7 linked regions of the Homo sapiens genome follow. The protein of the gene in region 2 purifies or fractionates together with the protein of the main gene of each other region. This does not show direct contact. Each region holds a gene or a part of one and is shown on either strand. Other genes may lie near its edges.

What was found.
Region 1: the proteins of EIF4B (region 2) and CDON purify together in Homo sapiens (affinity purification with mass spectrometry, with the first as the bait; one large-scale study listed by BioGRID). This does not show direct contact.
Region 3: the proteins of EIF4B (region 2) and SLK fractionate together in Homo sapiens (co-fractionation; one large-scale study listed by BioGRID). This does not show direct contact.
Region 4: the proteins of EIF4B (region 2) and DENND1C purify together in Homo sapiens (affinity purification with mass spectrometry, with the first as the bait; one large-scale study listed by BioGRID). This does not show direct contact.
Region 5: the proteins of EIF4B (region 2) and CSTF2 fractionate together in Homo sapiens (co-fractionation; 2 studies listed by BioGRID). This does not show direct contact.
Region 6: the proteins of EIF4B (region 2) and ANKRD53 purify together in Homo sapiens (affinity purification with mass spectrometry, with the first as the bait; one large-scale study listed by BioGRID). This does not show direct contact.
Region 7: the proteins of EIF4B (region 2) and CMTR1 fractionate together in Homo sapiens (co-fractionation; one large-scale study listed by BioGRID). This does not show direct contact.

Annotation. Positions count from the first base shown.
Region 1 is NC_000011.10:125,956,321-125,959,093, reverse strand, and holds the end of CDON (cell adhesion molecule-related/down-regulated by oncogenes isoform 2 precursor), read left to right. Parts: 3' UTR 1-2,273; downstream 2,274-2,773. UniProt on the Homo sapiens protein: Component of a cell-surface receptor complex that mediates cell-cell interactions between muscle precursor cells. Promotes differentiation of myogenic cells.
Region 2 is NC_000012.12:53,040,086-53,042,715, forward strand, and holds the end of EIF4B (eukaryotic translation initiation factor 4B), read left to right. Parts: intron 1-57; coding exon 58-138; 3' UTR 139-2,130; downstream 2,131-2,630. UniProt on the Homo sapiens protein: Required for the binding of mRNA to ribosomes. Functions in close association with EIF4-F and EIF4-A. Binds near the 5'-terminal cap of mRNA in presence of EIF-4F and ATP.
Region 3 is NC_000010.11:104,001,640-104,005,139, forward strand, and holds part of SLK (STE20-like serine/threonine-protein kinase), read left to right. Parts: intron 1-532; coding exon 533-1,888; intron 1,889-3,500. UniProt on the Homo sapiens protein: Mediates apoptosis and actin stress fiber dissolution.
Region 4 is NC_000019.10:6,475,288-6,478,787, reverse strand, and holds part of DENND1C (DENN domain-containing protein 1C), read left to right. Parts: coding exon 1-5; intron 6-1,329; coding exon 1,330-1,410; intron 1,411-1,504; coding exon 1,505-1,570; intron 1,571-1,660; coding exon 1,661-1,714; intron 1,715-1,820; coding exon 1,821-1,931; intron 1,932-2,549; exon of another isoform or gene 2,550-2,672; intron 2,673-2,850; coding exon 2,851-2,951; intron 2,952-3,036; coding exon 3,037-3,082; intron 3,083-3,202; coding exon 3,203-3,304; intron 3,305-3,388; coding exon 3,389-3,500.
Region 5 is NC_000023.11:100,839,706-100,842,020, forward strand, and holds the end of CSTF2 (cleavage stimulation factor subunit 2), read left to right. Parts: intron 1-1,008; 3' UTR 1,009-1,815; downstream 1,816-2,315. UniProt on the Homo sapiens protein: One of the multiple factors required for polyadenylation and 3'-end cleavage of mammalian pre-mRNAs. This subunit is directly involved in the binding to pre-mRNAs.
Region 6 is NC_000002.12:70,981,630-70,983,814, forward strand, and holds part of ANKRD53 (ankyrin repeat domain-containing protein 53), read left to right. Parts: intron 1-306; coding exon 307-471; intron 472-947; coding exon 948-1,068; intron 1,069-2,063; exon of another isoform or gene 2,064-2,185. UniProt on the Homo sapiens protein: Required for normal progression through mitosis. Involved in chromosome alignment and cytokinesis via regulation of microtubules polymerization.
Region 7 is NC_000006.12:37,478,221-37,482,008, reverse strand, and holds the end of CMTR1 (cap-specific mRNA (nucleoside-2'-O-)-methyltransferase 1), read right to left. Parts: intron 3,601-3,788; coding exon 3,488-3,600; intron 2,863-3,487; coding exon 2,754-2,862; intron 1,997-2,753; coding exon 1,864-1,996; 3' UTR 501-1,863; downstream 1-500. UniProt on the Homo sapiens protein: S-adenosyl-L-methionine-dependent methyltransferase that mediates mRNA cap1 2'-O-ribose methylation to the 5'-cap structure of mRNAs.

The sequences.
Region 1 (2,773 bases), on a different chromosome or scaffold from region 2:
GATATTAGGGATGCTGTAGACCCAAGTTCTACATTCCAGATGTCCGTGCCTATAGTATACTGGATTTATTCTTCATGTTGCTTAAATGCAGTTAGCTCTGGAGGGGGATAGCTGCATCCCTTACTTCTGTGACTAGCAAAGGACAAAGTCCCAGCGCACAGAATATGAAAACATACCCTGTGTTAGCCAATCAAGTTACAGCAATGCTGTCACAAAGGGAGTTTTAGAAAACTGGGGAGTCATTGTCCGTAGACAGCCATTTTGATTTAGGAAACAGGTGTATTAGCATGAGCCTTAGGTCATGAACTGCTTTTAAAGATTGAGTTTGAATATGGGATCTGTCCACGAGGAAGAGAAAATGGCTTTACCTTTAGGACAATCTCATTGTGGACTGCTTTATTTATATTATTAGTAACGCTGTTTTAAGTGTTATTCTTTTTATTGTATTTTATTTATAAAAAATGCCTTTATATATTGAAATATATAAATATATATATATAAACACACACACACACACACACACACACATATATATATATATATATAATTGCCTTTATATTTAGGCGGTATGAGTTCTCCCTAAGCGTGAGTTGGCTCTGCCCTGCACAGGCACCCAAACAGTCCTACCTAATGTCACTTCACCAGGAAATGAGAGGACATGGTACAGTGTGGGAGACAGCACTAACACGTGCTGAATAACTACTGTGTACCAGGCACTGTGCTCGGTGCTTGTTACTGTTAACTCATTTAACCCCCACAACTCATCTACAAAGTTGGCATTAAAATCCCCAAGTCACTCAGTGAGCCATGGGACCTGAATCCGAACCTAGTTTATCTGGAGCCATAATCTGGGCTCCTCCCATTTTTCCATACTGCTTTCCAAAAGCATTGTGGTTCACTCTTTGGATGGAACCAGTCCCGTTCCGTATGCTGTGATCTATCCCTGCCGTGGAATTCCTCCGAGGCTCCAACTCCGCAGCCAGAGAAGCTGCTCTCTGGCCTCCGCGGGCAGAGCTCTGCTTATGACTTCGTCTTCCAGAGGTCCACATTTCTCCCCTTGACGCCCCCTGTCTACCACCTCCACCTGGAAATTTGATCTTTACTGTGCTCAGTGATCACGAAATTGGTCAAGCCTATTCATGTTCCTTCTCATCTAGAATTCTGTGTGATTGTTTTAGCATAAACTGCCCCGCTCCCACTGTATCATTTCACGATCTCCTTTTAATGTTTTTCTTTCAGTTTTGCACTGACAGTCTGGTGACAGGTGCTGCCAGGGTGCAAGTTACATTGCAATGTTCTAAACCTTTTGAAGTGTTCTTAGCAAAAGCCTTTCTTTCTGGGTGTTTTTGTCGAATGAGTCTATGAAGACTCAATGCATCCATCTTGGGCTGATCATGCCACAGATCTCATTCCAGCTATAGTACTGCCAAGAAGTGAAGTTTATCATTGAATTTTACCTGTGTTGCTCTCTTTTAAAGTAATGACTTTGAGATGCATGCTTTGTATCATATTGAAAAGTATGTTTTATTTTCCTTAAAGTTGTAATATTGTGTGTGAAACTGTACATATTTTAAATGATGTAGCTTTGGCAGGTTTTATTTGGTTGATATGATTTTATATTAAAAGAGAAGGCTGCTTTCATATAGCATAGCCCCTGAAGGTGGGAATACTCCCTGTTTGTACAACGCTGCTTATAGTTTGTGATTGGGGTGGGCGAATGTCTTCCTCTGAAATTCTTTGGAACCCCCCACCCCTGTCCTCCCCTGAAACTCCCCTGTGCACACCCCTCTGTTCTGACTGCAGAGATCAAGGCCCTGAAGGAGCAGGATCTTGGGCAAGTGTTTTAGGGGACGCTGAGAACATACCTGACCCTGGGGGCGATGTGGAGGCAGGCCCACCTCCTCGGGGCAACTTTGCGTTTCCTTGGAGGGAAGGGAGGTGGGTAGGAGAGGAGCTTGGGAGGATGAGGAGGAGCGGTCCCGCCTCACACATTGTCTATTTTTACCATTAACCGAGCGCCACATGTTTATGAACTTCAGGATAGAAATTTAGCCTCCTTGTGAAAACGTTTTGTTTTACTGCCCTAAGAAAATACACATCTCTAGGCTTGTCTGACCAGAAAGCCAGCAAAGTCTTTTGCATCGGGTGTGGCCCTTTTGTATTTTATTTCCCATATTTAAATAAGCCTTCCTTAAACCCTAGCCCCAGTCCTGAGAGCTTTGAGGGTAGCCGAAACCCCTTATCTAATAAAGTCTAACTCTGTGAGAACCACAGAATCTTCTTAAGCTTCTCAATTTTCTGTCTCCTTTCAGGCGCCACGTCCCTTGTGCTGGCGGGTCCCCCGTTGGCTTTCTTGCCGTTTCTTCTCATCTGTGTCTCCTGCAGAGGCGGCTCGGAGTCCCGAGTCTTCTAGTCAGTTGAACAAGCATTCATTTGTGTTTTCACCCAGATTACAGACACACACACAAACAGACACACACACTTGGAGCTAGTGAGTCATGCTGGCAGCTGACATTGTGACTCTGGAACAGCCCCGGTGCTCTGTGGGCCAGCTCCCCCAGCCTGGGGGCGGGAAGCTACATCTGCAGTACCTCTGCTCCGTATCTTGTGGGCTGCGACTCCTGGAGTCGGACCACTGCAGCGTCAGTGATGTTCGTAAGCTATGGTTGAGCAAAGGAACACACACCTACACACCTTGCTTCTTCCCACTAGCCAAACCTGGGACCCAGCCATCAGCCTGTCTCTGTGGGAGTCGCAATGGAAGTAGCCCTCT
Region 2 (2,630 bases):
GGTTTTGATGTGATAATTCAGGGCCTTCATTATCCTGTCACTCTCGTTGTGTTACAGAAGTTCAGTTCTGCAAGCAAGTATGCTGCTCTCTCTGTTGATGGTGAAGATGAAAATGAGGGAGAAGATTATGCCGAATAGACCTCTACATCCTGTGCTTTTCTCCTAGTTTCTCTCCACCCTGGAACATTCGAGAGCAAATCAAAACCTCTATCCAGACAAGACAAAATAAAACTCACCATCTCCTGAAGACCTTTCTTACCTTTTTTTAAAAACAAAAAATGAAATTATTTTGCATGCTGCTGCAGCCTTTAAAGTATTGAAGTAACTGGAGAATTGCCAATACAGCCAGAGAGAAAGGGACTACAGCTTTTTAGAGGAAAAGTTGTGGTGCGTTATGTCACCATGCAGTTGCCAGTGTGATTAGTGCCTAGGGGTCTCCATTTAGCAGAAATGGTAATGACAGTGATATAATGCCTGGAACCTGGTTGGGCAGTAGGGGAGGGAGGTAGAAGGAAAAGTGTGAGATTTCTACCTTTTAGTTTTTATCCTATTGTGGCATATATGAATTCTCAAACATTATCTGAATAAATTTTCCACTCTTGGAAAGGTAGATTTAGCCTCAAGTTGTTCTAGTCTCCAGGAGGCTGCCAGCCCCTCCTCTTATTTAATTCTGAGTTTTGGGGGCCAGCCTAGAGGGAATTCCTTTTTTTTTTTTAACCCCCCAGGGGGGTAGTTGGGAGTGAGACTATAGGCCATAAAGAATGGGACTGCATTGGACCAAAATAAATGGGAAAATCGTGGTTTGAAAAGAAGCTTTTGGGAAGTGATGAGTCATTTTGCACCAGGTAATAGGGGAAAATTGTGTGACCTCCAGCAAACACATGAATGGTTATTTCCTGGAGCCGGAAGCACTTGGGGGTCGTGGTAATTCCCAGTGTTTTCTGTGTCCTAGTTTTACCCTTTCTAAACACTGTCCTTTTTGAAAGTTTTGAATATATCCACATTCTATTGAAACCTTGAAACTAAAAATTTAGACTCTTATCATCATCTTAAGTTCTTCATGCTACTCTTAACCTCCCAAAAAGCAGTATCTAAGTCACATACATGATGTCTTGGGCATTTTCTCAGCCATGGAGAACTCTGAAAGGAAGAATCGCTGCTTTTCTCAAGCAAATCGGTTTCTTGATGTCTTTTGGTTCTCCTTGCCTGCTCCTGATGCTTGGACCCCTTTTATTGATCAGAGTGCTCTAGAATAATGGATGGTCTTGGATGATGGATAAATAGGGACAGGGACAGTTAAATTGGGAGCCTTTCTTACAACCTTGATGGGATTTTTCCCCCCAAGTTTCCTTCTCCACTGAAATGCCACACTAATGCTTGTTGGATTCATGAGGTGGCCAGACCAATGTGTTGTTTTGTTGTTGTTTTTTTAAGCTTCCCTTGAGAGAATAAATGGTAATGGAGAGAACTATTTAACAAGGTCCTGGTTTCTCTTGCAACACAGTAGCTAAACTTGCCTGCTTTTATATGCATTTTTGTAGGGATCAGCTTGGTAGACAGTATTAGCGGAGAAACACCTTGATCTTGGTTTGCAAGCCCTTCTCCCATCAGTCCTAGATTAGGCCCTGTTCAGCCATGCAGGGGTGTTGGTTTATGCGTGCTGCAGCAGTGGGCATAATGAATATAATTTACCCAGTGGACAAAGGTGTGTACCAAGTGAATTTAAATAATTGGTGTGGATTGGCCAGTAGCTAAGAAGTGGGCTTTTAAAGAGTATTGAAGATTGAAAGGGTTTTTCTTTCTTTTTTAAAAAAGAAAAACAAACTATTGATTGTAGATAATGAAAAGCTAGGGTTTGCCCTCTTCATGTCTACTCTCCTTCCAAATAGTTATATCCAAAACTGTTTTTCCCTCTCCCCTACCTTGTCCCCCCTATTAAAATAGAAACAGGGATTGATTAATGTCCCGCTCCTGAATACATGTAAAATTTGTACAAAAATATCTTCTATGAAAATGATTTGTAATCTGTAGACTTATTACCTGGGAGATGTCTTGATGTAAAATCCCATCCTTTGGGTTGTGGGTTTTTTGTTTTCTCCAAATAAATCTGATCTTTAAAGTTCATTGTAATGCTGAAGTTCTTTGACAAATACTCTGCACTCCCAGTGGTTTTTACTGTAGTCATTGACCACCTGCTCCTCCTCCTCCTACCATCTCTGAAGTTTTCATTCAGTATTGGATACCATATTGTCCAAGATTAGAGGGTGGGGTTACAAGGGAATCTATTTCAGTGTTTATTGAGGCCCAATAATAGAGTTTGCATCCTAGCTCCCCTCTGGCTTTTTTTTTTTTTTTTTTTTTTTTTTTTGCCTGGTGTTAAATTTTTTAATCACCTGGATGTGCCTGCAGTCTATTTCCTGTACTGTTTATTTTAATCAAGATGTGGGAACTCTAAGAATGAATCCTTGTGTCCTTGGGGCAGTTCCCTCATAATCTCCCTCCCTCACTTCAGCAATCTGGAGAGATGCTGCTCCCTTGAGTTACACCGCACTGGTGGACCAGAGATACTGGTGACAGGCTGGTCGAGGTTACCAGAACAGAGGCTCACAGACTCAGTGGGAATTTTCCAA
Region 3 (3,500 bases), on a different chromosome or scaffold from region 2:
ATCTAAGGATTGATGGGTGGCAACGCAAAACCTTTAAATTTAGACCTGAAGATTAGTAGCAAGGTTGCTCGTCGCTGCACATTTTTGTTATATTTCCCTTTTTTTTGAGATGGAGTCTCACTCTGTCACCCAGGTTGGAGTGCAGTGGTCACTACAACCTCTGCCTCCCGGTGTCAGGTGGTTCTTGGGCCTCAGCCTCCCGAGTAGCTGGGACTACAGGCATGCGCCACCACACCCAACTAATTTTTGTATTTTTAGTAGAGATGGGGTTTCACCATGTTGGCCAGGCTAGTCTCGAACTCCTGACCTCAAGTGATCTTCCCTCCTCGGTCTCCCAAAGTGCTGGGATTACAGGTGTGTGCCACCGCACCCGGCCCATTTTTGTTATATTTCTTGTGAGAAGAATTGTTAATTCTTTAAATTCAGCAACATTTACTGAATAAAGATCTGAAATCACTGTAGGTCTGTAAACATTGTTTTGGTCACTCTAAGGTCATGTTTTAACACTAAAAATACATTAAATCTTTTTTAGCCAATACCTGCAAGTAAGCGTGCATCTTCTGACCTTAGTATCGCCAGCTCTGAAGAAGATAAACTTTCACAAAATGCTTGTATTTTGGAGTCTGTCTCAGAAAAAACAGAACGTAGTAACTCTGAAGATAAACTCAACAGCAAAATTCTTAATGAAAAACCCACCACTGATGAACCTGAAAAGGCTGTGGAGGATATTAATGAACATATTACCGATGCTCAGTTAGAAGCAATGACTGAACTCCATGACAGAACAGCAGTAATCAAGGAGAATGAAAGAGAGAAGAGGCCCAAGCTTGAAAATCTGCCTGACACAGAAGACCAAGAAACTGTGGACATTAATTCAGTCAGTGAAGGAAAAGAGAATAATATAATGATAACCTTAGAAACAAATATTGAACATAATCTAAAATCTGAGGAAGAAAAGGATCAGGAAAAGCAACAGATGTTTGAAAATAAGCTTATAAAATCTGAAGAAATTAAAGATACTATTTTGCAAACAGTAGATTTAGTTTCTCAAGAGACTGGAGAAAAAGAGGCAAATATTCAGGCAGTTGATAGTGAAGTTGGGCTTACAAAGGAAGACACCCAAGAGAAATTGGGGGAAGACGACAAAACTCAAAAAGATGTGATCAGCAATACAAGTGATGTGATAGGAACATGTGAGGCAGCAGATGTGGCTCAGAAAGTGGATGAAGACAGTGCTGAGGATACGCAGAGTAATGATGGGAAAGAAGTGGTCGAAGTAGGCCAGAAATTAATTAATAAGCCCATGGTGGGTCCTGAGGCTGGTGGTACTAAGGAAGTTCCTATTAAAGAAATAGTTGAAATGAATGAAATAGAAGAAGGTAAAAATAAGGAACAAGCAATAAACAGTTCAGAGAACATAATGGACATCAATGAGGAACCAGGAACAACTGAAGGTGAAGAAATCACTGAGTCAAGTAGCACTGAAGAAATGGAGGTCAGAAGTGTGGTGGCTGATACTGACCAAAAGGCTTTAGGAAGTGAAGTTCAGGATGCTTCTAAAGTCACTACTCAGATAGATAAAGAGAAAAAAGAAATTCCAGTGTCAATTAAAAAAGAGCCTGAAGTTACTGTAGTTTCACAGCCCACTGAACCTCAGCCTGTTCTAATACCCAGTATTAATATCAACTCTGACAGTGGAGAAAATAAAGAAGAAATAGGTTCTTTATCAAAAACTGAAACTATTCTGCCACCAGAATCTGAGAATCCAAAGGAAAATGATAATGATTCAGGCACTGGTTCCACTGCTGATACTAGCAGTATTGACTTGAATTTATCCATCTCTAGCTTTCTAAGTAAAACTAAAGACAGTGGATCGATATCTTTACAAGTAAGTGTACATGAGTCATTGTTTGGGTTTTCCTTTGCCATTTTCTCAATTCAGAGTTTATGTGAAATTGATGTCTTGAAAATAAAACAGCATTAAATTAATGTAGTATTAACAATATAAATTCTTACAGCCTATGAAAGCAATTAAAAAGAACTAAGGAGATTGTGGATCTAATCTTTAAATTTTGTGGTAGGATCTACCTATTTTTGCAGACCTGATGCAGATAAACAGTGTAATATGGTTGCTTGGTGTGATTAGGTTCCTTTATTGGACATATCTAGATGCAACATTAGCAAGAATCAACAATGTATGAGAGAATTAGAAATTGAAAGAATGATGTCTTTTTAAGCACATTTAGGGTGTAAACAATCCTTGATTTACCATTGGCCCATACAGTCACAGACATTGCTACTGCCATGAGAACCATTGTGGGGAAAACAAAACAAACACTAAAGCCCAGAACACTTGGAGCTTTGAGTGTAATTCTCAAATTTTAGTGTGCTTAGGAGTTACTAGCGGCTATGTAGAAGTCTGGAGTGGGTCCCAAGGATCACTATTTGTAAAAAAAAAAGATCCCACAGAGTTCTGATGCAGGTGATCCATGGGCTGCCCCTTGGAAAATACTTCCTAGACCCTCTGGGTTGATAGTAGCAGAAGAGAAGACAGAAAAGCAGGAACAACCTAAGAAAACTGACATAGATGGATCTCTAGGGCATGAGTGATTAGTCTGCCTATCTGCCCCAAATTCCTAGGATTTTCTTACATGTATTCCTAGGATTTTCTTCTTTTTTCAGTTTACTTTCTTTCACTGACTGAAATAACCACCACTCTGAAATTCATTCACTGACTTAATAGCCTCTTTTAAAAATGCAAATAACTTGTATAAGAATGAAGAAGATATTAATTATTGAACTTTTAGTAGGAGCTGAAGAAATGTGAAGTTTGGAGGTTAAGGTGTAGATAGGTGTATTTTTTGGAGTCTGCCAACTTTAGATTTTAGAGGAATCCTGGGTAGGGTACCATAGTCCTGGACTTTGGAAGAAGAGCATGAGGATCCTGGAAGCTTGGAGAAGAGAACAGTAAGAGGAGAGGATGCAGAAAGGTGATTGGAAGGTGCCAAAGAGAAACTGTTTAAAATTTGGATGCATTTTGAGTTTAGCATTTTCACATTCCATTTTTGCTTCCTCTGCCTTCTAACCCTTTCTTCCATATCAACACCCAGTAAGTATCTGCCCTGAACACTTAGTTTACCAAAATGTATTTGTAGGAGTCTTATATGTCTGTTATTTCTGTTTGCATTTAAATGTTTTTGGATACCAGTTGAGGAATGAAGAGTTTAGTCTTAATAAAGAATTTTAGGTCATAGCTAGCAGCCAAATCTGGTACTTTTGGGTGCAGCAGAGGCACTGTCTTTCTAGTAACCCTAAAATCATACATATATCTCTGGCCCTGAGATGGAGGGAGGGGCTGTCGATATTATTGTTACTGATTAAGTAGATTTTGATCCCCAGTGCTGGCAGTGTTTAAAAATTACCTGAGAGCTTTTTCAAAAAAAAGAGATTTCCAGCTACCCTCAGACCTGTCAATTTAGTTTTTTTTTAAGAGATGAGCC
Region 4 (3,500 bases), on a different chromosome or scaffold from region 2:
ACCAAGTGAGACCAGCCCCTCTCTCACTCCTGTGGGAGTCCCAGCCCCCACCCCCCTCAACCTCCCAACCCCTCCCTCTCAGATCTCCCAGGCTTGGCAGGGCACACTGTGTCACACCTGTAGTCCCTGCATTTTGGGAGGCCGAGGTGGGAGGATCCCTTGAGCCCTGGAGTTCGAGACCAGCTGGGCAACATAGTGAGACCCCCGTCTCTACAAAATATAAAAAATAATTGGCCAAGTGCTGTGGCTCACGCCTGTAATCCCAGCACTTTGGGAGGACAAGGCGAGCGGATCACCTGAGGTCAGGAGTTCGAGACCGGCCTGACCGACATGGTGAAGCCCCGTCTCTACTAAAAATACAAAAAAAAAAAAAAAAAATTAGCCGGCCGTCGTGGCACACGCCTGTAATCCCAGCTGCTCAGAGGCTGCGGCAGGAGAATCGCTTGAACCCGGGAGGCGGAAGTGGCAGTGAGCCGAGATCGCGCCATTGCACTCCAGCTTGGGCAACAGGAGCGAAACTCCGTCTCAAAAAATAAAAATAAAAAATTAGCCAGGCGTGGTGGTGCACACCTGTGGTCCCAGCTACTCAGGAGAGCAAGGTGGGAGGATCAACTGAGCCCAGGAGTTCGAAGCTATAGTGAGCTATGATCGCAGCACTGCACTCCAGCCTGGGGGACAGAGCAAGACCCTGTCTCAAGAAAAAAAATTTCTTTTAGATGGAGTCTTCCTCTGTCGCCCAGGCTGGAGTGCGGTGGTGCGATTCCGCCTCACTGCAACCTCCGCATTCCGGGTTCAGGCGATTCTTCCGCCTCAGTCTCCCAAGTAGCTGGGACTATAGGCGCGGCCCACCAGCCCGGCTAATTTTTTTTTTTTTTTTTGTACTTTTAACAGAGACGTGTTTTCACTATGTTGGCCAGGCTGGACACGGACTCCTGGCCTCAGGTGATCCGCATGCCTCAGCCTCCCAAAGGGTTGGGATTACAGGCGCGAGCCACCGCGCCCGGCCTACAAGGAAAAATTTAAATTAAAAAATTTAAAAAGCCGGGCGCGGTGGCTCACGCCTGTAATTGTAGCCCTTTGGGAGGCCGAAGCAGCAGGATCCCTTGAGCCCAGGAGTTCAAGACCAGCCTGGGCAACATAGGGAGACTTTGTCTCTATTATTATTATTATTATTATTATTAATTTCTTTTAAAGAAAGAAAAAAAAAAACTCCCAGGACTGACCTGAGCCCTTGGCTCCTCCCAGACCACTCAACCTTAGTCATAGCCCTCGGAATCCCCAATCCCCACATCTGGCTCAGCCACCCCCGCCCCTCCACGTCCCACCCAGGTCACCGAGGCAGAGGAACTTCTTCAAAATCTGTTTCAGCAGTCCCTGTCTGGGCCCCAGGCCTCAGTGGGGCTTGAGCTGGTGAGTAGCTCCCATTCCCTGGGCGCTGGACCTTAGGTGGATGGGAAGGCTGCGTCCCAGCCATCATGACCACAGAGTCGTGCCTCTTCCCCAGGGCAGCGGAGTGACGGTCTCCAGCGGGCAGGGTATCCCCCCCCCTACCCGGGGGAATAGCAAGCCGGTGAGCGGGGCTCGGGGACCCTGGAAGGTCGGGGGTCCAGGTGAGGCCAGCCTCCTGACTGATTGATCCCCCTGCCAATACCCCCACCAGCTTTCCTGCTTCGTGGCCCCGGACTCCGGCCGCCTGCCATCCATCCCTGAGAACGTGAGTGGGGAGGGGTCTCTGGGGGTGAGAACAGGTCCCGAAACCCGGACCGGGGATGCAAGATCCAGGGGCCCGTCCACGCCCAGAGCGACTCTCTGATCCTCAGAGGAACCTAACGGAGCTGGTGGTGGCCGTGACTGACGAGAACATCGTGGGGCTGTTCGCGGCGCTCCTGGCCGAGAGAAGAGTCCTGCTCACCGCCAGCAAACTCAGCACCGTGAGGCGGGGTCCGCCGGGCCGGGGTGGGAGCAGGGCCTGGCTCCGCCCCGGGGGGCGGGACAAGGGGGCTGATTCCTGGCTCTAACCCTACTGCGCGAGACCCGAGGGCGAAGTCCTGGCCCCGCCCCTTCGAAGGTCTTGGAGAGTTGAACTCTGGCCCCGCCCTCGTGGGAGGGGGCTGCGCTGCAGCTCCTCCTTTTTGGGAGTACTGTGCTCAGGCTCCACCCACTATGGGCCGCAACACGTCTGGCTCCACCCCTCCGGACCCTCAGGGACACTGAGAACTAGGGACTTATACACGTGGGAATCCAGGGACCCAGGGACCCAGGGACTCAGGGACTCAGAGATCTGAGGACCCAGGGACCCGAATACCCAGGGACCTAGGAACACAGGGACTCAGATAACAAGGGGCGCAAAAAACTAGAGACCCATACTCCCAGGGACCCTGAAACCCAGGGTCAAAGGCAGACGTGGAGACTGGCTCCACCCCTAGGGGCGGGGCCAAATGATTGCCTTCCGGCTCCACCTCTTTGGGTGGGGTTACGTCTTGGATCCACCCCTAGGGGCGGGACAAGGGCGGTCTACGTCATAGCTCCACCTCTTTCGGGGTGGAGTCAGTGGAGGCTCAGTCCTTGCTCTACCTGCATGGGGAAGACTCAGGGGTGTTGCCTATTAACTGCGCCCCTTACAGAGAGGGATCAGGACGGTATGAGTCCTGGCTTCACCCGCTTAAAGCACTGTAAGTGGCCAAATTCCTGGTCTCCACATGATTTCTAAAGGGGTTCGAGTTGTCACTCATTATCCAGCAGTGGATGGGGAGGGGGAACAGGAGACTGGGGACGTGGGAAATGCAGCTGGAAGAGACCTCGCGCTAGAGGGTCCAGGCCCTGACTCCACGCCCCGCCATCGCTCCCCAGCTGACCTCGTGCGTCCACGCGTCCTGCGCGCTCCTGTACCCCATGCGCTGGGAGCACGTGCTGATCCCCACGCTGCCCCCACACCTGCTGGACTACTGCTGGTGAGCGAGGGCAGCTGGGAGGGGCAGGGCCTGTGGGCAGGCCCTGGGGGCGGTGCCTGCATGACCCCGTCCCCTCGGTCCGCAGCGCGCCCATGCCCTACCTCATTGGAGTGCACGCCAGTCTCGCCGAGGTGAGCGTGGATCTACCCAGACGACGGGGACGTGAGGGTTCCCCCTTCCTCTACATCCCCAGATGCCCTCCTCTGCCAAGGACTCCCGGGCTCTGAGCGGCCGACCCCGCTTTTCCGCAGAGAGTACGAGAAAAAGCCCTGGAGGACGTCGTGGTGCTGAACGTGGACGCCAATACCTTGGAGACGACCTTTAACGACGTGCAGGCGCTGCCTCCAGACGTGGTCAGTGTCGCCCCTCCCACCTTCCTGCCCCGGGAGGCGAGGGGCCCACACCTGCCCACTCAGGGCCACTCCCTTGTGCTTCAGGTGTCCCTGCTGAGGCTCCGGCTCAGGAAGGTCGCCCTGGCCCCCGGGGAAGGGGTGTCCCGTCTCTTCCTCAAAGCCCAGGCCCTGCTCTTCGGGGGGTACCGCGACGCAC
Region 5 (2,315 bases), on a different chromosome or scaffold from region 2:
CTTTTTTTTTAGTAAAAGTATAGACTACCTATTACATTCAGAGGAATAAATAAAAATTATTTCTTTTACTAATTTACTTAAGCCAGAGAAGGCATTCCCTACAATGTGAGAAAATTACTCCTTACTGTTTCTGGATAGTAGAGGTAGAAATGTTTCTGAAATTTCTTTCATTATAGTTTTGCTTATAGGATGTTTAATTTAAGGCCTTGCATATTAACCACAAGGCAAAGTTTTTGTCTATTTTTTTACCTTTTATTTTTAAATAATCATAGACTCAAGGAAAGTTGGAAAAATAGTACAAGGAGTCTCATGTACCCTTCACCCAGTGTAGTGCAAAACCAAGAAATTGACATTGGCACATTACTGTTAACTTGACTGCAAACTCAGTTTTCACCATTTTAAAAAAACTATCATGATTTGTGTATATGTATGTGTGGTTCTATGCAATTTTATGTGGGCAAGATTTTATTGTGTGTCTACTGGTGTTTGTGCATACCATGGCTAAAGTGTTGGGTTTTCCTCCATCCTATACCTAGCTAGTTGTGATCCATCTCTGCCATCATGGACAGGCTTCTATACTGTTGTCATTAGAGATGAATGGTTCTCAAACAAGGGCAGTTTTGCCCCCTAGGTGACATTGTCTTGAGACGTTTTTGGTCATCACAACTTTAGGGAGTATGGCATGCTACTGGCATTCAGTGGGTAGAGGCCAGAGATACTGCTAAACATCCCATAATGCACAGGATGGTCCCCCTCACCCACTTCCCAATAGCAACTAGTACTCCAGCCCAAAATGTCAGTAGTGCTGAGGTTGAGAAACCCTGCTGCAAGGGCTGATTGCTTTGAGGAGTCAGGAGGCAGGAGACAGATACTTTGCAAATCTGTCCTGGTGATTTGATTATATGCCTGTCCTCCCTCCCCTAGCCTTTTTATTTTTTTTCCTGAAGTTTTTCCGGAAGAGAGCTTTGTCTTCACTTCTAATGGCTTTGTCCTAACTTCTTCTTACAGGTTTTCAAAAATACCTGGCAAGAAATCTGGAAATTCTATAATTTTGTTGAAATATTGAAAAAAGATGACCTGCATCCTAACCCTTGAATGACTCAAATCAGTGCCAGGTGGAGGACTCCCATCACCTTCTCTCAGAACAAAATCACTTCATTTTATTGTCTTAGTTTGTATATTTTCTGTGACTTGAAATAAACTTTGAACACAATTTTAGTACACTGCAAATTGATACACATGACCTTTTTGCTTTTAAAAAGCTTAACACTAAGGGTGAAACCTTAGATGTGTTTTCTACCCTTACTGCAGTATTGTACTTTAACATATTGCCATAGTTTTGTTTTTAAGTTAACCACTTATTCTTCTTGATGATATTTGAGAATTTCTCAGAAGCAATGTTTTCTGGAACTTGGTTTTTGTTTAGTTTGCTTCCAGTAAGAATTATTATAAGGCTTTGCCCTCTGAAAATATTCTAGCACTTCGGAGTCTTCTAGGAGAAAATATCACATGCTTAGAGCTATAAAATGGTCAGAAGGCTAACAGAGCAAAGAGCCTAGCACAGCTGTGTGTTTAGTTTAGAAAAATCCAAATATCAAAATGCATTTGTTTCAATAGCAGGTCTGAACATGTATAATTCAGAGTTAAGACAAAAATTGTTTTAGCACTGGTTTGAGTGTGTCAGCAACACAAGAGACTGTTGACATTTACTTGTGTGTTCTTAAACTTATCAGTCTAGGCAGTCAACTTTGAAAGTTTAAAAAGCCACTGATTTTTCACATGCTCAAGATGAAATAAAAACAGAAATCAAATGAACAAAATACATTTCATCCTATCTTCCAGGCAGTCCCTAACCTGCAGCCCTACCCTGTAACTACGTTTATTCTGGGAACTTACAACACAGAAAACCCTAAAACTTGTACATTCTTCTCATTTTAAGTGGACCAAATGTAGAGCACAGTCAGATTGCTCATTAGGTCTGCTCCTGCCTGCTTCCTTGCGGATAGGTATGAACATAATTAGTGCCATTAGCTCTAATCTATGGGTCTTATTGCCTAGTATTTCTCTCTCTCGCCGCGCCGCCGCCTCCTCCTCTCCCCCCACCCCAACCCCATCTCTCTCGTAGTGGCATTAAGGAGGAACATGGTTTCTCTCTATCAGGCCAACCTCAAGAGGTTAAGAGTTGCCTTAATAATCAGTAAAGTTCTACTGGAACTACTTTTGAGCCAATTTATATTCTTGGAATTCTATCCCCTGGGTTAGGATTATGGTCAGGTGAATTAAAAGCCTGGCATAGGCTTAGAGAATGTAATAGC
Region 6 (2,185 bases), on a different chromosome or scaffold from region 2:
AGGGCAGGGGGCTGGTTGGTTTAAGAGTGGATGAGGTTAGTGGTCTCTGAACCAAGCCAGCTCTCCTTCCAGCAGTTCTTAACTATCACATACCTTCTAAAGTCAGATTTTTACTGTTCACTTAGTCCAATTCCTCCCTTTACAGTAAAGGAAATTGAGGTGCCAAAAGGGACAGACATAGCTAGGATCACCCAGTGGACTGATGGTAGAGCAGGGCTTGGAAACTGGTGTGTCCATCTATCTGATGGACAGATGCTCTTTGTCTTTCCTTTCTGCCCTTATCCCCACTGGTGGGGCCTTCCACAGTCAGACATGCAACGGCTCCACGCCCCTGCACCTGGCAGCCCGTGACGGCTTGCTGGACTGTGTGAAGGTCCTGGTGCAGAGTGGCGCCAACGTCCATGCCCAAGATGCCATGGGCTACAAACCCATTGACTTCTGCAAAATATGGAACCACCGTGCCTGTGCCCGGTGAGAGTGTGAGAACCACCTGGAGCCTGCCCACCCCCTTCCCCTCCCCCAGCCTTTTCCCTAGGGCCCTCACCACAGCTGAGCCTTTAAGGGGAGGGTTGGGAAGCCAGACAGCTGGAGGATGCGCCTACTGCCCAGGATATTTTGGATGAGGCAATCACCTCATCACCTGGGCTTGGGGGTAAGTCTGCCCAGGTCCCCTGCTCTCTGGGTTGATCACTGCCCTCCTTTCCTGCCCTGGGGCCCCTGGCTCCTCAGCAGGAGGGTGGTGACCAGGTCATCAAGGACTTTCGTCTTTCACCTAAAGGAAGTAGGGAGCCAGAGGGCCCCGGGCAATGGGGATGGCTCATCTTGCTCCTCTCCCTCTGGCCACTCCCCTCATCCCCATCCAAGCCCTCAGCAGCAGCCAGTCTTCCCAGCCCAGGTGGAAGCTCTGTCACTGTGGGATGACACCCCCGCCCTGACCTTGGCACCAGGTTCTTGAAGGATGCCATGTGGAAAAAGGACAAGAAGGACTTTGCCCGTGAGATGACGAAAATGAAGATGTTCAAGAGCCAGCTGACCCTCATGGAGCACAACTACCTGATTGAGTATCAAGTAAGGGGGACAGCAGGGGGGCCAGGGGACAGCTGCTATCCAGGCATGTGAGCAGAGGGGGCAGTGACCCACATATTGTGGAGGAGTGGCTAGAAGCACTCCCACCCTGAAAGAGCCACCCTTTCGCCTGTACTCCCACCGGGTACTCTGACTGAAATTCCGCTCTTTTAAATAAGCCAGTCTTTTGGTCAAAAGTCTTATCCTGTGTTAGAAAGCCAATTTAAGCAAGCTTAAATTCGCAAGTATTTCTGGGCCCCTCCTAGTGTACTGCCTCTTTCAGGATGAGAACCTTCAATGAGACCAAGGCACTGCCTGTAACTGGGGCTCACACTCTGGTTAAAAAGATCCACCCTTCCTTCCAGCAGGCACTGGGCATTCACTCTGTGCTAGGAACCTGCTAGACCCTGAGGTCTAAAGATGAACAATATGTGGTCCCCACGCTCAAGGAGCTTAGAGTCTAGCAGAGGAGGCAGGTTACAGGCCCATCAAGGAGGAGAGGGTCCAGGAGGGTGTCAGGAGGCATGATGCTTAAGAGGAGTCTTGAAAGATGCGCAGCAGTTGGCTATATGAAGGAGGGAAGGGCTAACCAGGCATAAAGAGCAGCCGCATGGAAAGGCATAGAGGCACCTGGGAACATGATGTATGCAGAGAATGAAAACTCAGAGCAGCTGGGGATCAGATGTAAGTTGGAGGCTGACAAGATTTGGCAGGAGCCCACATCAGTGAAGGACCTTGGCTGGGGAAGAAAGGGGATTTTAAGCAGGTGTAATTACATAGGGTGCAAAACCCAGAAAACTCAGAAGATACTGGGAATCTTAAGTGAATCCTGAAATGGGGAGGGCTTTGGGGCTGCTGACTCCGGCACACCGGGTCTGTTTCAGTTCCATTTCTCTCCAGTTCTCAGCCCTATCCTCCTCTGATGTCAGGGTCACCAGTCCTCAGAGTCACACACTGTCCAGAGGAGGCAAGGCCCATCTGTTTCCTGTAGCTCTAACCTTTTCCAGAAGCTCCTTGCATCTTCCCTCATCTCTTATGGCCTCAATTCGATCAAGTGTCCATTCTCGTTCCTTTAGCTAGAACTAAAGGAAAGCCATATGCTGACTGACTTAGGTCTGGG
Region 7 (3,788 bases), on a different chromosome or scaffold from region 2:
GCAGAACCAGCCCTCCTTGGAGGGGAGGCAGGCTAGGGTCAGTGAAACCATCTATCTCTCCCTCCCTCTTTCGCCCAAGTCTAGTGACACTAATTGGTCTGACGCCTCTGTTATTTTAGTCACACAGACTGATCCTGGATTGTCACAGTGCCACCATGGAGTGAGCTGTGTGATTTATGTAAGGGGGGAAGGTGCCTCTCTGCCCTTCCGGGGCTGTGGGTTCATTCATTCTGCAGTCCCTGCTTGTAACAGGAGCTGCACAATTTCCCCCAACTCTTCTTTGAGCCCCCTCTTGAGCAGCAAGCAGCAGCCCTGGGAGCCCTGCAGGTGCCCAAGAGCTTGAACAGGCTCCGATTAAACAAACCCTCTTTTCTCTCCTCTGCTTTGAGTAGAGCTGCTTCCCCTTCACCTCTGGCTCAAGCTGTTTCATCCAAGCCAGTCTCAGATCACAAAGCACTGAGGACAAACAGCAGCAGCCCCAACACAGAGCCACACAGGCATTAAAAATATGTTTATCTTTAATGATCCAAGATTCTGCAAGACACACTGATATACCCAGAATTGGGTGGAAATACAGCATCTCAGCAGTGCTACTGCCAGCCTGGGGGTGGGGAGCTGGATGCTGGCTGAAGGACCCCCATGGTGAAGTCGATTCCAACCTCACGGGAGCCTCAGTGCCCTATCTCCATGGAAACCAGCCTGGCACTGGGATGGGGCCCTAGGGAGCCTGCATGAACATCTCTGAGAGGTATTTCCCATTAAAAACAACCACAGGTGCCCACCCCCACCCCAAGCTACTGCCCAGCTCCCCCTCCTCTCTGTGTTGTCGGCCAAGATAAAGGAAATGGGAGTGACCACTTAACGACAAACAAAAGCAGATTGTACCTCCTATTAGGGAAGAAAAAGGAAGGGAAAGGGTAGTAAGGGAGCTGCACTTCAAGCTCAGAATTCTGCCAAGACCCTAGAGCGGCTATGGCAGACAGCGGTGCATGACTGCCAGAGGGCAGCGCTACCCAAACCCCTGGAGGTACCCTTTGTTACTGCTGGGGCCCCTGCTGCTGTGGGGGAAAGACGGGTCTTCAAGGCTGCTTCCTGCCATCTAGCGCTGCCCAATGTTTGGACCAAAAGGGGATGGCACCTAGGATGGCTCTACAACTCCATACTCAGTACGAAAAGAGGGCTCCCAGGATCTCAATGTGGTATCAGGGATGAGAGTTTGCCCAAACTCCCTCCTTCCCACCCTGCTGGACTGTCAGAGCTCTGGGCTAGGAAGAACTCCAGGGAAGGCCAGGATGAGTGGGGGAAGGAGACAAGAAAATGGTCTCCAATTTGGCATCAAAACAGAGTAAGTTCAAAGAAACAAAACCTTGATTTTTTTATAGCAGGTTCTCCTGGCCAGCTCATGACAGCAGGTCTCCACCCACTCAGGGATGGCCCAATAAAAAGTTGGGCAAAGCAAGGGCATGGCTACCCTCAGGGCAGTGCATGGAACTCAGAAAAGTGAGTCTACAGGATGCAGGAGAGAACAGCAGAGCCCACAGCTCTGCCACTCTGATATGTCCTCCATCAGTCCCACGTGCCCTAGGCACTGACCTCATACCTGCCTCAGGAGCAGCTTCCTTCAGGCTGAGTCCTGGCAGGGGAAAGTTCCCAGGCAGGTGTCCCAGAAGGAACATGAGTGTTCTCTGCAGGGCCCTGCCTGAGCTCTTCAGGGGATGGAGAGGAGGCCACCCACTCCTCATGCCAGGTGCAATGCTCCCCAGTCCCTTTTCAAGAGGGGGAAGAAGCCAGCACTGTGGGCCCCAGGTGGCCCCATCTCAGGAATGACAGGGCATTCTGCAGGGGTGGCACATTCTGAGGCTCTTAGGCCCTGTGCATCTGGATGAAGGAGAGGACGTCCTCCTTGGACAGCTTGTCCTGGTCCTGGGGCTTCTGGGAGTCATGCACACGAATGCCATCCCCCCACTCCCAGAAGAGCCGGCCATAGTAGCAAATGCTGGGGAGGAGAGGGATGGGAAAGAGGTCAGGACTGCACCCAGATGGCACAGGGTCATGTGTTCTTAAGGGTGTGGGGCGGAGGGGTCTGTCAATGACTTTAGTTGAGGTTCTTCCCCCGGCAGGCAAAAGGTACCCGGTAGGCCCTAACTCCCCTGCCTCCCAGAACCAACTTTTCCCAACAAACAGCTGTTGCTGCTAATTGCATCCAACTGGATTCCTACAGTGACTGATATTCCTGACTTATCTGTCTGTGCTTCTCTAATATACAGTATTAGTAGTGTGGTGACAGAAAATGTCAGTGGCTAATTACAGGCACATTAGGGCTGCTGGGGAAGCCTATGACCAACAGTCTGACTAATGGACACCGGGTCCTAATGAGGGACAGCTGGGACCTTGAGTGCCAAGGGGCAGGGCTGTGGGCCCTCAGCAGGTTCCCACCATCAGGCCAGTGTTGGAATGTCACCGAAACGTGGCTGCTCCATGGGGTGGATACGCTGCCCAGATGGGCCTTCACAGCCAGGCCCGTAACCATTAGCAGGTCCAGGCATCGTGCTTCCCTCACCAGCTCTACCCAGGTCCAGCCACACCTGCAGGGGGCTGCCATCCCCACAAGTATTCTCAGGCCTGTGCTCAGGGGAACCCCTGCATGGGCAACAGTCTCAGGACCCAGGGTGTGCCCCCAAGACAGCTGGCTGGCATCCTGCAGGAGTACTTGAGGCTGCTAAGGAGGGCAGGCTTGGAGGAGAGCTACTTACTGAAATGGGGCAATGGAGTCTGCAGGGAGGTCAAAAGTAGAGTCCTTGGTTTTCTTGTTGTAGAAGAACTTCTTCTTGAAGCTTTTGCTGAATCCCATAGTCCAGGGCTCTGATGGGAGGAAGAGGGGATGAAGCCCAGAAGGGACACAAAGCACTTGTGGAGGACAGGCGTGTACCTTCCTCCACTCCCGGTGGTCCTATTCCTGCCTCCCACCAAAAGCAAGCAGGGAATAGCCCGTGAGGCAGCAGCCTTCATCACCAGCCCAAAGGGGCTGCAGGAGAATGACTACGCGATGACTTCTTCTCAACGACCCCACCCCAGTCCTGCCAACCCTCCATCAGGGTAACATCTCTAGGACTCTGACAGATGTAGGACTCTGTTAGCCAGAGCGCTCTGAAGAAAGGGGGATGCAAATGGACAGAAACCAAGCTTGACTTTCTGGATTTGCTGCTGTCTACTGAGAAGGCCCTTTTCCTGCCATGAGAACAACACGTGCGTGTGTACAAGTTGAGCTCCTCTCCCTATTGCCTAACCAACTCCCAGGGCCCACGGAAGAACAGAAGAGGCTCAGGGAACACTGTCCCCTAACATATGCCTCAGAGAAATGCCAGCCTGGCTGCTACCCACCTTAGCTGGGAGCCCTTCGCTCTGGCTCAGGTAGGGTCTGGACCCATCACCTGGCGAGGAGAGGGGAGAGGGGAGGGGATGGCGGGAACAGTCCCTCCTCACCCACCATTCACTGTCCTGACGATGTAGAGGCCCATGGGTACAAAGTGCCGGTCATCACGCCCTGTGTAGCTGAGCTTTGGGGTGCCACTGGAGCCCTTGATGATCTTCATCTCCAACCTGATTTCCCCGAGAAGGTACGTGCATGAGAGAGAAAAGGCCCTGGCTGATAAAATTAGTCTCTGACTAATAAAATCACCCCAACTGCAGTATCTGATCCTGGTTTGACTTAAGATGAAACTGAGGCACACAGCCGAGTGGGTGGCCATGCTGAGTTTAGAATTCAGGCCCTGAATTCCCACTCAGGC